4 linked regions of the Homo sapiens genome follow. The protein of the gene in region 3 purifies or fractionates together with the protein of the main gene of each other region. This does not show direct contact. Each region holds a gene or a part of one and is shown on either strand. Other genes may lie near its edges.

The links. The genes of interacting proteins can lie anywhere in the genome.
Region 1: the proteins of SLC7A2 (region 3) and LMTK2 purify together in Homo sapiens (affinity purification with mass spectrometry; one large-scale study listed by BioGRID and IntAct). This does not show direct contact.
Region 2: the proteins of SLC7A2 (region 3) and VKORC1L1 purify together in Homo sapiens (affinity purification with mass spectrometry; one large-scale study listed by BioGRID and IntAct). This does not show direct contact.
Region 4: the proteins of SLC7A2 (region 3) and ATP11B purify together in Homo sapiens (affinity purification with mass spectrometry; one large-scale study listed by BioGRID and IntAct). This does not show direct contact.

Annotation. Positions count from the first base shown.
Region 1 is NC_000007.14:98,197,362-98,200,861, reverse strand, and holds part of LMTK2 (serine/threonine-protein kinase LMTK2 precursor), read right to left. Parts: intron 1-3,500. UniProt on the Homo sapiens protein: Phosphorylates PPP1C, phosphorylase b and CFTR.
Region 2 is NC_000007.14:65,946,074-65,949,573, forward strand, and holds part of VKORC1L1 (vitamin K epoxide reductase complex subunit 1-like protein 1), read left to right. Parts: intron 1-2,597; coding exon 2,598-2,707; intron 2,708-3,500. UniProt on the Homo sapiens protein: Involved in vitamin K metabolism. Can reduce inactive vitamin K 2,3-epoxide to active vitamin K, and may contribute to vitamin K-mediated protection against oxidative stress.
Region 3 is NC_000008.11:17,542,088-17,545,587, forward strand, and holds part of SLC7A2 (cationic amino acid transporter 2), read left to right. Parts: intron 1-1,230; coding exon of another isoform or gene 1,231-1,252; coding exon 1,253-1,628; intron 1,629-2,363; coding exon 2,364-2,519; intron 2,520-3,500. UniProt on the Homo sapiens protein: Functions as a permease involved in the transport of the cationic amino acids (L-arginine, L-lysine, L-ornithine and L-homoarginine); the affinity for its substrates differs between isoforms created by alternative splicing.
Region 4 is NC_000003.12:182,800,004-182,803,503, forward strand, and holds part of ATP11B (phospholipid-transporting ATPase IF), read left to right. Parts: intron 1-3,500. UniProt on the Homo sapiens protein: Catalytic component of a P4-ATPase flippase complex which catalyzes the hydrolysis of ATP coupled to the transport of aminophospholipids, phosphatidylserines (PS) and phosphatidylethanolamines (PE), from the outer to the inner leaflet of intracellular membranes.

The DNA of each region.
Region 1 (3,500 bases), on a different chromosome or scaffold from region 3:
CACAAATAAGAAATAACAGTATAACAACAACAACAACAACAACAAAATAAATAATACAGTATAACAACTATTTTCATAGCATTTACAGTGTATGAGGCATTATAAGTAATCTAGAGATGACTGAAAGTCTGCAGGAGGATGTGTGTAGGTTATATGCAAATATGATGCCATTTCATATAAAGCACTTGGGCAGCCTCTAATTATGGTATCCAAATTATGGAACCACCACTTCTTGGAAACCAAGGGACAACTCCAGAAACGATCTGAACAGAGATCAGTGACAAGACCACCCGTGCATAACCACACCTGTGCATACTAAGTCCTGTGGTTAGCCTTGCGGAACCCACATATACAAAAAGTCAGCCCTCCGTATCTATACACAGGTTCTACATCCCGAGAATACTGTGCTTTCGATCTGTTTTGGGTTGAAAAGAAGCCATGTTATAAGTACACTCACACAGTTCAAACCCATGTTGCTCCAGGGCCAACTGTATAATACTATTCATTTCCTCTTGAGTTTCTTAGAATGTGTTTGATGACAGAAAGTCAAATGTGTTGCACTGTCTGAGGAGTTATCAGTGTACATGTATGCAACATAGAAGAGCATGTCAAGAAGGGGACGGAGGGCAAAAGGCCTAAGTGACAGTAGGGTTTCCACATTCCATCTGAAATATGCAAATACAGATTCTAAGTAGATTGTGAGAAGTTTAATACATACATTGTAACCCCCAGAACAACCACTACAAAAACTACGCAAAGAGAACAGTGTAAAAAAAAAGAAAAAGAAAAATGTAATACTAAAAATGTTCAATTTATTAAAAAGAGGAAGAATAGAAATAAAAATAGAACAAATAAAATGGTATACGTAAATCCAAAATATCAATAATTTTATTAAAGGTAAATGATCTAAACATACCATTAAAAGGCAGATTTTTCAGAACAGAGTTTTAAAAACCCCATCTAACTATAAGATCTGCAAGAAACTCATGTCAAATATAATGATACAGGTAGATTAAAAGTAAAAGGATGCAAAAGATACACCACGCAAACATTAACCAAAACAACGTGGCCAGGAGCGGTGGCTCACGCCTGTAATCCCAACACTTTCGAAGACCGAGGCGGGCGGATTGCTTGAGCTCAGGAGTTCGAGACCAGCCTGGCCAACATGGTGAAACCCCATCTCTACAAAAAATACAAAAATTAGCTGTGTGTGGTGGTGTGCACCCGTAGTCCCAGTTACTTGTGGGGCTGAGGCAGGAGGACTGCTTGAGCCCAGGAGCTCAAGGCTGCAGTGAGCCAAAATCATACCACTGCACTCCAGCCTGGGTGACAAAGTGAGACTGTCTCCGAAAAAAGAAAGAAAGCTGGAGCAGCTCTATGAATATAAGGCAAAGGAATACAGAAGGACATTACGAAAGGATAAAAAGGTCAATTCAGCAAGAAGACATCATCATCCTCAATGTATATGCATCAACAGAGCTGCAAAATACAGGAAGCGAAAATAAACAGAAATGAAAAGAGAAATAGACAAATCTAAAAATCACAGCTGGAGACTTCAACAACCTCTCTCTGAGTAATAGAACAAGTATGCAGAAAAATCGGCAATGACAGAGAAGAACTAATACCATCAACAAATTAAATCTGACATTTATAGAACGATCCACCCACCAAAACCAAAATACACACTCTTTCAGGTATACATGGAATAATTCACCAAGAAAGACCATATCCTGGCTCTAAGATAAACCTTAACAAATTTAAAAGCATTGAAACCATATTAAATATGTTCTCTGCCCATAATGGAATTAGACTAAAATTTAATAACAAAAAGATACAATAAAATCTCCAACTCTTGGAAATTAAACAATATACTTATTAAACTATATTAACCAATTATTAGTAATTATTAATTATAACTAATATATTAAACTATACTTGTTAATCTATGCTCCCAAGAGGAAGTCTTACAAAAAACTTTTTGATCTGAATGAAAACGAAAACTCACACATTAAAATTTGCTGGGTGCAGCTAAAGTAGTACATAAAGGGAAATTTATAGCATTAAATTATTAGAAAAGAAGAGGCCAGGTGCAGTGGCTCACGTCTATAATCCCAGCACTTCGGGAAGCCAAGGCAGGCAGATTCACCTGAGCTCAGGAATTCGAGACCAGCCTGGGCAACATGACGAAACAAAAAATACAAAAATTAGCCAGGCACGGTGGTGGGCGCCTGTGGTCCCAGCTACTTCAGGAGGCTGAGGCAGGAGAATCCCTTGAGCCTGGGAGGTGGAGGCTGCAGTGAGCAGAGATCGCACTACTGCACTACTACAGCCTGGGCGACAGAGCGAGACCCAGTCTCAAAAAAAGAGAAAAGAGGCCAGGCGCGGTAGCTCAGGCCTGTAATCCCAGCACTCTGGGAGGCCGAGGTGGGCAGATCATGAGGTCAAGAGATTGAGACCATCCTGGCCAACATGGTGAAACCTCGTCTCTACTAAAAATACAAAAATTAGCCAAGCGCGGTGGCACACGCCTGTAATCCCAGCTATTGAGGAGGTGGAGGCAGGAGAATTGCTTGAACGCGGGAGGCGGAGGTTGCAGTGAGCCGATATCACGCCACTGCCCTCCAACCTGGCGACAGAGTGAGACGTCTCAAAAAAAAAAAAAAAGGAGAAAAGAAGTAAGGTCTCGAATTCTAAGCTTTTCTAGAAAAAGCAAAATAAATTCAAAGCAAGGAGAAGGAAGGAAATAATAAAGACAAAGCAGAAATCAACGAAAGAGAAAAGAAAAAAAAATCCATGAAAACAAAAGCAATTTTTTGGAAAGATCAACAAATCTACATAATCTCTTCCAAACACTATCAGAGAAGGAAATACTTCCCAACTCATTTTATGAGACCAGCATTAATTACTCTGATAACAAAACCAAAGACAGTGCCAGCAAACAAACAAAACCCAAACCAACCAAAAAAACCTAGGTGGAGCCCTGAATGTTTATTCCTCAAAGCTGGAGAGCAGGAGCCTCTCAGACAGGGTCTCACTCTGCCATCCCGGCTGCAGTGCAGTGACACAATCATAGCTCACTGCACTCTCAAACTCCTGGGTTTAAGCGATCCTCCTGCCTCAGCCTCCTGAGCAGGTGAGACTATAGGTGCGGGCCACCACAACTGGCCAATTTTTTAAAAATCGGTTCTTATTATGCTGCCTAGACCAGTCTCACCTCCTGGCCTTAAGCGATCCTCCTGCCTCAGCTTTCCAAAATGTTAGGATTATGGGAATGAGCTACTGTGCCCAGCCTTCAGTGCTTGTTTACAGTATGACGGATCAGGCTGGAGGGAACCCTGTCGCACTAATTGCAAGTAAGCATCATTACCCGCTACTTTTGTCTCAAGAACACTGTGCACTGAGGAAGGACATCGCAAGTGCTAAAAGTCGAATGCGATGCCAGGCTGCAGATTGTAAAGGTGCATGCAAGAGGTGGCAGGGCTCAGTGGTGAAAAGTTCTG
Region 2 (3,500 bases), on a different chromosome or scaffold from region 3:
AAAGCTACTAAACGTCTTTCATAGCAATTAGAATAAAATTCAAACTCTTCGGCATGGCCTACACACAAGGCCCTAAATAATGTAAATGATTGGACTCGCTCCCAGTTCTCCTGTCACTCTCCTCAATCACCATGCCCCAGCCTCAGTGGCCTTCCTTGGCACACCCACAGCTCATTCCTACCTCAAGGCCTTTGACTTGCCATTGCTCATGAGACCGATTGCTTACCATCACTCAGGATCTCATTCAAAACTTCATTCCTGGAAAAGGTCCTTCCCGACCATCAAGCTAGAGGAGCTTGCTGCACCCCTTCTCTGCCCACAGCTATGGATCTCCAAGTGTGGGCTTCAGACCAGAAGCGTCAGTGTTGCCTGCAAGCATTTCATTTTGTGTTGTGTTTTCTCTGGAAATGCAGAGTCTTAGGCCCCACCACAGACCCACTGAAGGAACAGCTACATTTTAACCAGACCCCAGAGTGATTGTGCTTTAAAAATTTCAGAAGCACTGATCTAGAGTTTCCCCTTCTAATTTTCCTGTGTATCTGTTACAAGGTGTGTCCATTGCTGCAGGTAATCTGGCATTTGTTTACCTGTTTATTATTTCTCTTCCCTAAATAGAATTTAAGGTCCACAAGGGCAGCACCTCGTCTGGCTCGTTCACTTCTGGATCCCCGGCACGTAGCGTCAGTGCACACAGTACATGCTCAATAAGTATTTAGATGAGTGAAAGAATAAATGAATATAATGGAAATTATTTTATGTTCTTTGAAATGTATAACTGAAGGCTGGGTGTCATAGCTCAGCCTGTAATCCCAGCACTTTGGGAGGCCAAGGTGGGAGGATTGCTTGAGTCCAGTACTTCAAGACCAGCCTTGGCACATGGCAAAGCTGCAACTCTATAAAAAAATACCAAAAAAAAAATATATATATATAGCTGGGTGTGGTAGTCTCAGCTACTTCGGGAGGCTGAGGCAGGAGAATCACTTGAACCTCGGAGGTCAAGGCTGCAGTGAGTCATGATTGCAACTGCACTGTAGCCTGGGCAACAGAGGAACATCCTGTCTCAAAAAAACAAAACAAAACAAAACAAACAAAAAGGATTGCATAATTCTACAATAAAAATCTTCATGGCTTTCACTTGTTTGTAAAATCGGGGTGATTTTTCTCTCCCAACATCATCGTTATACAGGGGTTTCATTCTATATCTTGGGCATCAAGTGCTATTAAACTATTGTGGCCTGTGAAGAATTACTTATTTATCCTTGCTTTGGGGCAGTTTGTCTTCAGAACCAAAGTTTAGATTTTGTTTAGACTGATTCTCTACTGACTTAACACCATAACTGGTTTTTTTTTTTTTTTTTAGTATTTAAGAAGCACTCTCGTTCAATCCAGAGTTAACATTATCTTTAAAGGTTTTTTATTCAAAATGAATGTTTGATATTTGTATCAAGTTTTATCAAATAAGTTAACAATTTAAAAAAAATCAGGTTTTAAAAATGTTAAGTCAAATGCAAGATTTAAAGTTAAATTGCAAATAAAAACTGATAGGGCATATAATGTATCCAGTTTTTTACATCTGAGATAGGATTCCAGGAAAGACCTATAGTTTCTGATATTATCCTGCATTTTTTTTTTTTGAAATGGAGTTTTGCTCTTGTTGCCCAGGCTGGAGTGCAGTGGTGCAGTCTCGGCCCACTGCAACCTCTGCTTCCAGGGTTCAAGTGATTCTCCTGCCTTAGTCTCCCAACTAGCTGGGATTACAGGTGCACACCACCATGTCCGGCTAATTTTTTGTATTTTGAGTAGAGACGGGTTTCACCATGCTGGCCAGCCTGGTCTCGAACTCTTGACCTTGTGATCTGCTCGCCTCGGCCTCCCAAGGTGGTGGGATTATAGGTGTGATCCACGGGCCCGGCCCTACATTTAAAAAATACATTCCCAGTATATTTCTTAATGCATATCCTGGTGAAATTTGTGAAGAAACAACTTTTCAATCTATATTCTTTGAGTGAATAAATAGCACAACTTACATTCTATGGTTTTCAACTGGGGGCAGTCGTGTCCCAGCGGATGTTTGGCAATGGCTGTGACTGCATTTTTGGTAGTCACACCTGGGATGGAGGAGTACTGGCAGCATCTAGTTGGGGGAGCTCTGGGGTACTGTTAGTTATGTAATGCACAGAACACCCCACAGCACAAAGAATTATCTAGCCCAAAATGTCAGTAGTCCACTGTTAAGAGACAGTGGACAACTGTCTCCTTCTGCATAGAGAAGTCTCCTTCTGCAAATACTAATGCCATTGGAAAACGAATACTTTGCCCTACCTTCTGGAGAAGAGAATATATAGAAATTGGCAACTGAGAGATTCAGATGGGTATACTGGCACCTTTAGATATGTTCATTTTAGATGATTATTTCTAATCAGAAATCTAGTGACTGGCCTCCCTCTCTTTGGGGCAAATCACTCTCTCAACACAGGACATTTAAGACATTTCACAACTTAGTTGATTTTAGAATTGGATAACGTTCTCAAATAATGATACATTTTTTAAAATAGGGAAATTCAAATATAGGGTTACTGGTTTTCCTTATTTTACAGATGGGGTCGAGGATTTGGTCTTTTGGGTTCCATTTTTGGAAAGGATGGTGTATTAAACCAGCCAAACAGTGTCTTTGGACTTATATTTTATATACTACAGTTATTACTTGGTAAGTATTTATCAATACAAAAATAAGTTTGTTATATTCCGTTTAGTACTTTGTGTCTTTGCCCTGAAGTGTCTTGATGTTAAAGCATGTGTTATTTATAGAACCACTAGCGTGTACAACATTTTTGTGTTATGAAAACTTGATTCACTGAGATTTTTATTATATTATTGTTGAATTTATGTCAATTGCTGTTTAATCATGGAGAGCAGTATCTCATGATGTCCAGAAAAACCAGTCCCATTCCAGGAAATTATCACTCCCATCTTCCCTGTTAACGTTTTTCCTTATTTTATAGACTCAGTGGCCTTGAAAAATATCATATATTAAGGGGACATTAACAAGAAACCATATTCATAATCCCATTACCTTTACATATCCACTATTTCCACAGTCTTCTGCTTTTAAAAATAATTTTTGGGCTGGGTGCGGTGGTGCACACCTGTAATCCCAGCACTTAGGGAGGCCAAGATAGGCAGATCATCTGAGGTTGGGAGTTCGAGACCAGCCTGGCCAACATAAAGAAACCCTGTCTCTACTAAAAATACAAAATTAGCTGGGCGAGGTGGTGCATGCCTGTAATCCCAGCTACTCATGAGGCTGAGGCTGGAGAGTCACTTGAACCCGGGAGACGGAGGTTGTAGTGAGCTGAGATCGCGCCATTGCACTCCAGCCTGGGCAACAAGAGCGAAACTCCGTCTCACAAAAAAGAAATAAATAATAATAATAATAATAACTTGGGGCCAGGTGCAGTGGCTCACACCTGTAATCCTAGGACTTTGGGAGGCCGAGAAGG
Region 3 (3,500 bases):
AAAGCATAGTTGAATAGCACTTTTAGATTTCAGCAGGCCTTGAGAGGTGATTTTTTAAAAATTCTAAAAAGTTCACATCTGCTTCACATTCATTGTTTAAAATGAAAACAGAGAAGCTCACACATGCTTGATAAAGCTGTAGAATACGTAATGATTAAGTTTTTACGTGCTTTTAGATGATAGCTAAGTCCTGTAAGGCTAGAGACCCCATCTATGTAAGAGATCATTCTACACATATTCCCAGCACAATTCCTGGTATTTAGTAAGGCCTGAAAAATCTGGGCCAGGCATGGTGGTTCATGCGTGTAATCCCAGCACTTTGGGAGGCCAAGGAGGTAGGACTGCGTGAGCCCATGAATTCAAGACCAGCATGGGCAACATAGTGAGACCCTGTCTCTACGAAAAATAAAGAAGTTACCCGAGCGTGGTGGCACATGCCTGTGGTCCCAGCTACTCAGTAGACTAAGGCGAGAGGATTGATTGAGCCCAGGAAGTTGAGGCTTCAGTGAGCTATGATCACGCCACTGTGCTGCAGCCTGGGTGACAGAGTGAGACCCTGTCTCAAAAAAAAAAGAAAAAGAACCTGAGTTAAATGGATGGTTGAAGTAAAGAGAGACAGAACCCAAAAGATGAGGCAATTCACTCCTTTCCTTGTAGTGAGAATGAAATTAGCCATCTCTTGAAATATATTTCTATCAACATATCCTTAGGAAATTTTTAGCTTGGACATGGTGGCTCACACCTGTAACCCCGAGGTTGAGCTACTCCGGAGGCTGAGGTGGGAGGATTGTTTGAGCCCAGGAGGTTGAGGCTGCAGTGAGCCAAGATTGTGCCACTGCCCTCCAGCCTGGGCGACAGAGTGAGATCCTGTTTCCAAACAAAAACAGAAACACAAAATTATAATATGCAAACAAGAATGGCAAATCTTTTTAATCACCCAAGGCTGCTATATTCCTTTGCTTGCCACATAAGCCATTTATTGCAGTCTCTTATAAGGGGACGTGTATGCTACAGGAAATTGAACTACAGGAAATTCGAGGCTCTGGTTATTAAACCTTCCTTCTGACTGCTCTGGGTCACTGCATCTCTTCTAACAAGTGAAACACACACACACACACACACACACACAAACACACACACACACATACTCTAATTGTGCCTGGAAGCTAGGTTACCAAAGGGAGGGATGACAATTCCAGATCAGCTTCTAACCTCCTCCCTTCTGCTCAGGTCGCCTTCGTCAGACGTCAGAATGATTCCTTGCAGAGCCGCGCTGACCTTTGCCCGATGTCTGATCCGGAGAAAAATCGTGACCCTGGACAGTCTAGAAGACACCAAATTATGCCGCTGCTTATCCACCATGGACCTCATTGCCCTGGGCGTTGGAAGCACCCTTGGGGCCGGGGTTTATGTCCTCGCTGGGGAGGTGGCCAAGGCAGACTCGGGCCCCAGCATCGTGGTGTCCTTCCTCATTGCTGCCCTGGCTTCAGTGATGGCTGGCCTCTGCTATGCCGAATTTGGGGCCCGTGTTCCCAAGACGGGGTCTGCATATTTGTACACCTACGTGACTGTCGGAGAGCTGTGGGCCTTCATCACTGGCTGGAATCTCATTTTATCGTATGTGATAGGTATGTTTCAAAAAGAAATCTAACTTGTGTGGAATGGAAGAAATCGCAGCCCTGAGTCACAGCCCTTAGGTTCAGTTGTAGGTGTTGGGTACATCACTTGATGTCTGTGTGTCTCATTTTTGTCATCTCGAAAATGTCTCCTTCTAATTACAAAATTCTGTGGGTTTTTTTTAAGACAGTCTCACTCTGTCGCCCAGGCTTGAAGTGCAGTGGCGTGATCTCAGCTCGCTGCAACCTCTGCCTCCTGGCTTCAAGCGATTCTCCTGCTTCAGCCTCCTGAGTAGCTGGGATTACAGGCACCTGCCACCATGCCTGGCTAATTTTTTGCATTTTTAGTAAAGACGGGGTTTCACCATGTTGACCAAGCTGGTCTCGAACTCCTGACCTCAGGTGATCCACTCACCTCGGCCTCCCAAAGTGCTGGGATTGCAGGTGTGAGCCACGGCACCCGGCCACAAAATTCTGTGATTTTTGCTTCATCTCTGACTATGCCTTTTAGTGGGCTTGCAAACTTTTTAAGTTATAATTCTTTATTGCAAATAAAGTTACCTGATTCCAGAGTTATGGATTTGAACATTTGATGACTACTGTATGATTATAAATATCCAGATACTGTATATGTGATTAAAATTTTCAATCTTTTGTGAACTCATGTTTATCCTATAATAGAGTAGCAAATGATGCTACTTTAATTTGCCCCCAGTGACTTCGTATTCTCTGTTCTGTTTTGGGAAGGTACATCAAGTGTTGCAAGAGCCTGGAGTGGCACCTTTGATGAACTTCTTAGCAAACAGATTGGTCAGTTTTTGAGGACATACTTCAGAATGAATTACACTGGTCTTGCAGAATATCCCGATTTTTTTGCTGTGTGCCTTATATTACTTCTAGCAGGTAAGAAAACCAGTTATGAGTCTCTGCAGAATGAGCCACACTATTTGTCTCAGGAAAATAGGTTACTTCTGAATTTGGGGCCTGAGTTCCCAAGATGAGATTAGTATATTTACACATTTATGTCACTGTTAGACATCTGTGGGGTTTATCACTGGCTGGAATCACATTTTAACCTAAGTCTAAATTGTGTGCAATGGTAAAAATAGCACTTCTGAGTAAATGGCACCTGGTACACACTAAATAATAGGATGAGGACATTGATTTTTTAAATCGTTAATTGCAGGTTTGCAGGAATAGCGGTGGTTTCAGTAAGGAAGAATGTGTAATTTCTTGGCATTATTTCATCTTGCTAGATACAACTAGGGATATTTGCAATTTCTAGAAGAATTTCTGTTTTTCTGACATGGCTTCATCTATATAATGTAGGCCTTTGATTGTAAAGGAAGCAAGTTCTAATCACCTGTCATTTTGTAATGTCGACATTATATAGGCAAACATACTTAGTACTAGGATTTTCCAGTTTTTGTCAGTATTGTAGCATAGTGGTTTTAGGAGGCACAGGAATTCTAATAACCACATTTCAATCCTGCTGTGCCACTCACTCTGCTTTAGAACATAGAACAATTTATTTAATCTTTCCCTCACTCGTACATAAAATGAGGGCATCAGTGTCTGCCTCCTATAGCCTTCTCGTTTGGTTCCTAGTAAGCACTCACGTGGTGGCTGATTTTATTTCATAGGCATAGCTAATCCCTGCTCTGTCTCCTTATATTTGTTTTAACTATTTGAACATTTTCTTTTTTTTTTTTTTTTTTTTTTTTTGAGATGGAGTCTGACTCTGTCGCCCAGGCTGGAGTACAGTGGTACTGCAACCTCCGTCTCCCGGGTGCAAGCGATTCTTCTGCCTCAGCCTCCTGAGTAGCTGGGACTACAGGTGCGCGCCACCGCACCTGGCTGATTTTTGTATTTTTAGTAGAGACG
Region 4 (3,500 bases), on a different chromosome or scaffold from region 3:
GGAGACTGAGGCAGGAGTATTGCTTGAACACAGGAGTTCAAGGCGGCAGTGAGCTATGATTGTGCCAGTACATTCCAGCCTGGATGACAGAGTAAGACCCTGTCTCTAAAAAATAAAAATTAAAAAAAAGAAAGAAACAAAAACATTCTTGATTGGATATTTATATGGGAAATACTATGAGACTTATTTTTAAGCCAATACTTCAAGTTAGAAATTATATATATAATTTTTTTTTTGAGATAAGGCCTCACTTTGTCTCCCAGGCTGTACTGCAGTGATGTGATCACAGCTCACTGCAACCCCAAACTCCTGGGCTCAAATGATCCTCCTGCCTCAGCCTCCTGAGTAGCTAAGACTTCAGGCATTTGCCACCACACCCAGCTAATTAAAAAAAAAAAAAAATTGTAGAGGTGGGGGTCTCACTATGTTTCCCAGGCTGGTCTCAGACTCCTGGACTCAAGCGATCCTCCTGTCTCAGCCTCCCAAAGTGCTGAGATTACAGGTGTGAGCCACTGTGCCCAGACGATGTTTGTATTTAATTTTTTTGCATATATGGTTATAATGCATTCAGTAAACATTCACCTGTATTGTGAATGACATGCATTGAATTTCTGTTACTTCTCAGCACTTGGGAATGGCTCTGAGGGAACTGTTTGACTCTTGGGTGTGCTTAGGAGAAAACTAGAACACAAATTTTTTTGCTGACTGGCTCACTTAAAATTGTACAATTTTTAATTTTCGTATTTTCTTATCCTATACATGGTATTGGCAAATTCTTTTGATTTTTTTTTTTTTTTAAGACAGTCTCGCTTTGTCACCCAGGCTAGAGTGCAGTGGCGCGATCTCCGCTCACTGCAACCTCCGCCCCCCACCCCCCCCAGCCCCGCCCAGATTCAGGTGATTCTCCTGCCTCAGCCTCCTGAGTAGCTGGGATTACAGGCACGTCCCACCATGCCCAACGGATTTTTTCGTATTGTTAGTAGAGACAGGGTTTCGCCATGTTGGCCAGGCCAGTCTCGAACCCTGGACCTCAGATGATCAATCCACTTCGGCCTCCCAGAGTGCTGGGATTACAGGTGTGACCCATCCCACCAGGCCTTCCTTTGAAATTTTTAGCATGTAGTTTATCCTCCTTAACATTAAGTTATGGCTTATGCAGATAATCATACTTGTTTCTCTTTAAAACTATTAGATTGTCCAAAATTTAGATGAAATACCAAATTAAGGATATTAATTAGTTAAGCTGTGTCTGTCTCCACATTTTAATTGGAAGTGAAGTTCCCCCTCAGGAAAGGAGGAAGAATAGGATGATATGCATAGGTATCAATCATTCATTCATTCACGTACATTTTGGAAAAGTTAGGAACAGAAACAGATGTTGTATATATGTAGCTTATTCTTACTGTGTGAAGCCGGTAAAGCTGGTACAGGTTATTTTTATTCTTTCTTTAAGCATTATGTTATAGAAAATTTCAATCACCTGCAAAAGTAGAGATAATGGTATAATGAGCCCCTTTATGGTATAAAGTTGGGCAAATGGTATAATTTATCCTTTACCCAACTTTTACAGTTATCGGCACATGACCAATCTTGTTTTATCTATTCCCCCCACCCACTATCCTCACTCCCTTTAGTGATTTTGAAGCAAATCCCAGACATTATATAATTTTACCCATAAATATTTCTGTATTTATCTCCAAAATCGCTTCTTCCTTTCCTTCCATTCTCAAATTCTTATTTTTACAAGTGTAGAAATTTTATTTTATGTCAGTTACATCAGTGATTATTAATATAAGTTAATGTAAAACTCTCCCCTTAACTCTTGATTTAATTCAGTTATATTAATAATAAAAGGTACATGCATAATATGTATTGCTAATAAATTTACTAAGAATCTGTCAAATTCTAAGCAGGAGATGTAGTTCTTTAAAAGTCAACTGCTCTTTTTCTATGGATACCTCTGTGGGGAGAAGAAATCAAAGAAAGACACATGAATCAAAAAATGCTTTGCTTCAAAACATCATGTTGTGCACCATAAATATACAGAATTTTTGTCAATTTTTTAAAAAATGCATTTTAAAAAGTGTTTTACTTATAACATGAATACATCTAAGTGTTTGGGGAGCAAATCGTATCTCCCTTTTTGTTGTTGCTAAAAATGATATATCCAGAACCATTTCTCTCGTCTTTCTCTGCCACCACCCTCAACTAAACTACTGCTACCTCTTACCTAGATTATTGCAAAAGCTTCCTAGTTCATCTCATTGTTTCTCCCCTTCTGTCCTTGCAGTCTGTTTTCAATATACCCACCAGAGTGATCTTATTAAACAGGTTAGATCATATAATTCCTCTGCCTAAGATTTTCCAAGTGCTTGCTCTTTTGTTCAGAGTAAAAGCCAAAGTCTCTGCTTGATCTGTATGCCAACCCCTACACTTCTTCCAATCCATTTCTCATCCTCCATCACTATTCTCTCACTCTTTATTCACACTAGCCTTATTGCAATTCAGAAGTCCCAGGCATACTTCAGTTTTAGGAGCTTTGTCCTGACTGTTACTACCTCTACCTGGAATGTTCTTCCTGCAGACATCTGCTGGCTCCTTCGCTCCTTTCAAGTCTTTATTCAAATATTGCGTTATTCATGAGTGAAGCTTTTTCCAGCCATTCAGTATAATGTTCTGACCCTCCCCATTACTTCCCTGTTGCCTTTCCTTGCTTGATTTCTCAGCACTTAATGCTATTTAACCTACTCCAAAACTTGCTAGTCTCATTTATCTCAGGAAGGAAGGGATTTTGTCTGCTTTAGTTTTGTTCTCCATTTAACAAAAGCCATTTCTCAACTCTGCATCCCCTTTTAGGTGACACCATTTCTTTCTCATGTATTGATGAATTGAGTCATTTTCTGTAAGTGAATTAGTTTTCTGTGATAGCATATTTGTTGCTAGGCTTTGGAACTACCAAAATGAAGTAATCCCTGCCCCAGCCAATCTTATGGGGGGTTCTTTTTTTCTAATGTATATTCGGATTGTTGCCAATTTTTTCCTGTTACAAAAAGTGTTACAATGACTATTATTGTTTATTTATTTATTTATTTTGAAGTTAAATACCCAGAAGTGGAATTGCTGGGTCATGGGTCACGTACATTATGACTGTTACTAAATATTGCCAAAGTATTTTCTAAAACAGAGTTCTCCTTTCCCTACATCTTGCTCAACACTTTGTACTGTCAGACTTGAAAAAACGTACCAGTCTGATGGGTGTGAAATAGTGTCTCATTTTGTTCTAATTTGCATTTTCTTGATTGCTGGTGAGATGCAGGTATCCTCAATTTCATTCACATGAATAGATTGCCCGTTTTCCATTGGGTAGTTTGGCCTTTCCTAATTCTTGCTATAGCCTGGATGCCAATTCTTTGTTGTATATGTTGTAAATATCTTCTAGTCTGTTCCGTGTATTTAATTTAGTTTATGGTATCTTTTTTTATACAGAAAGTTTAAATTTA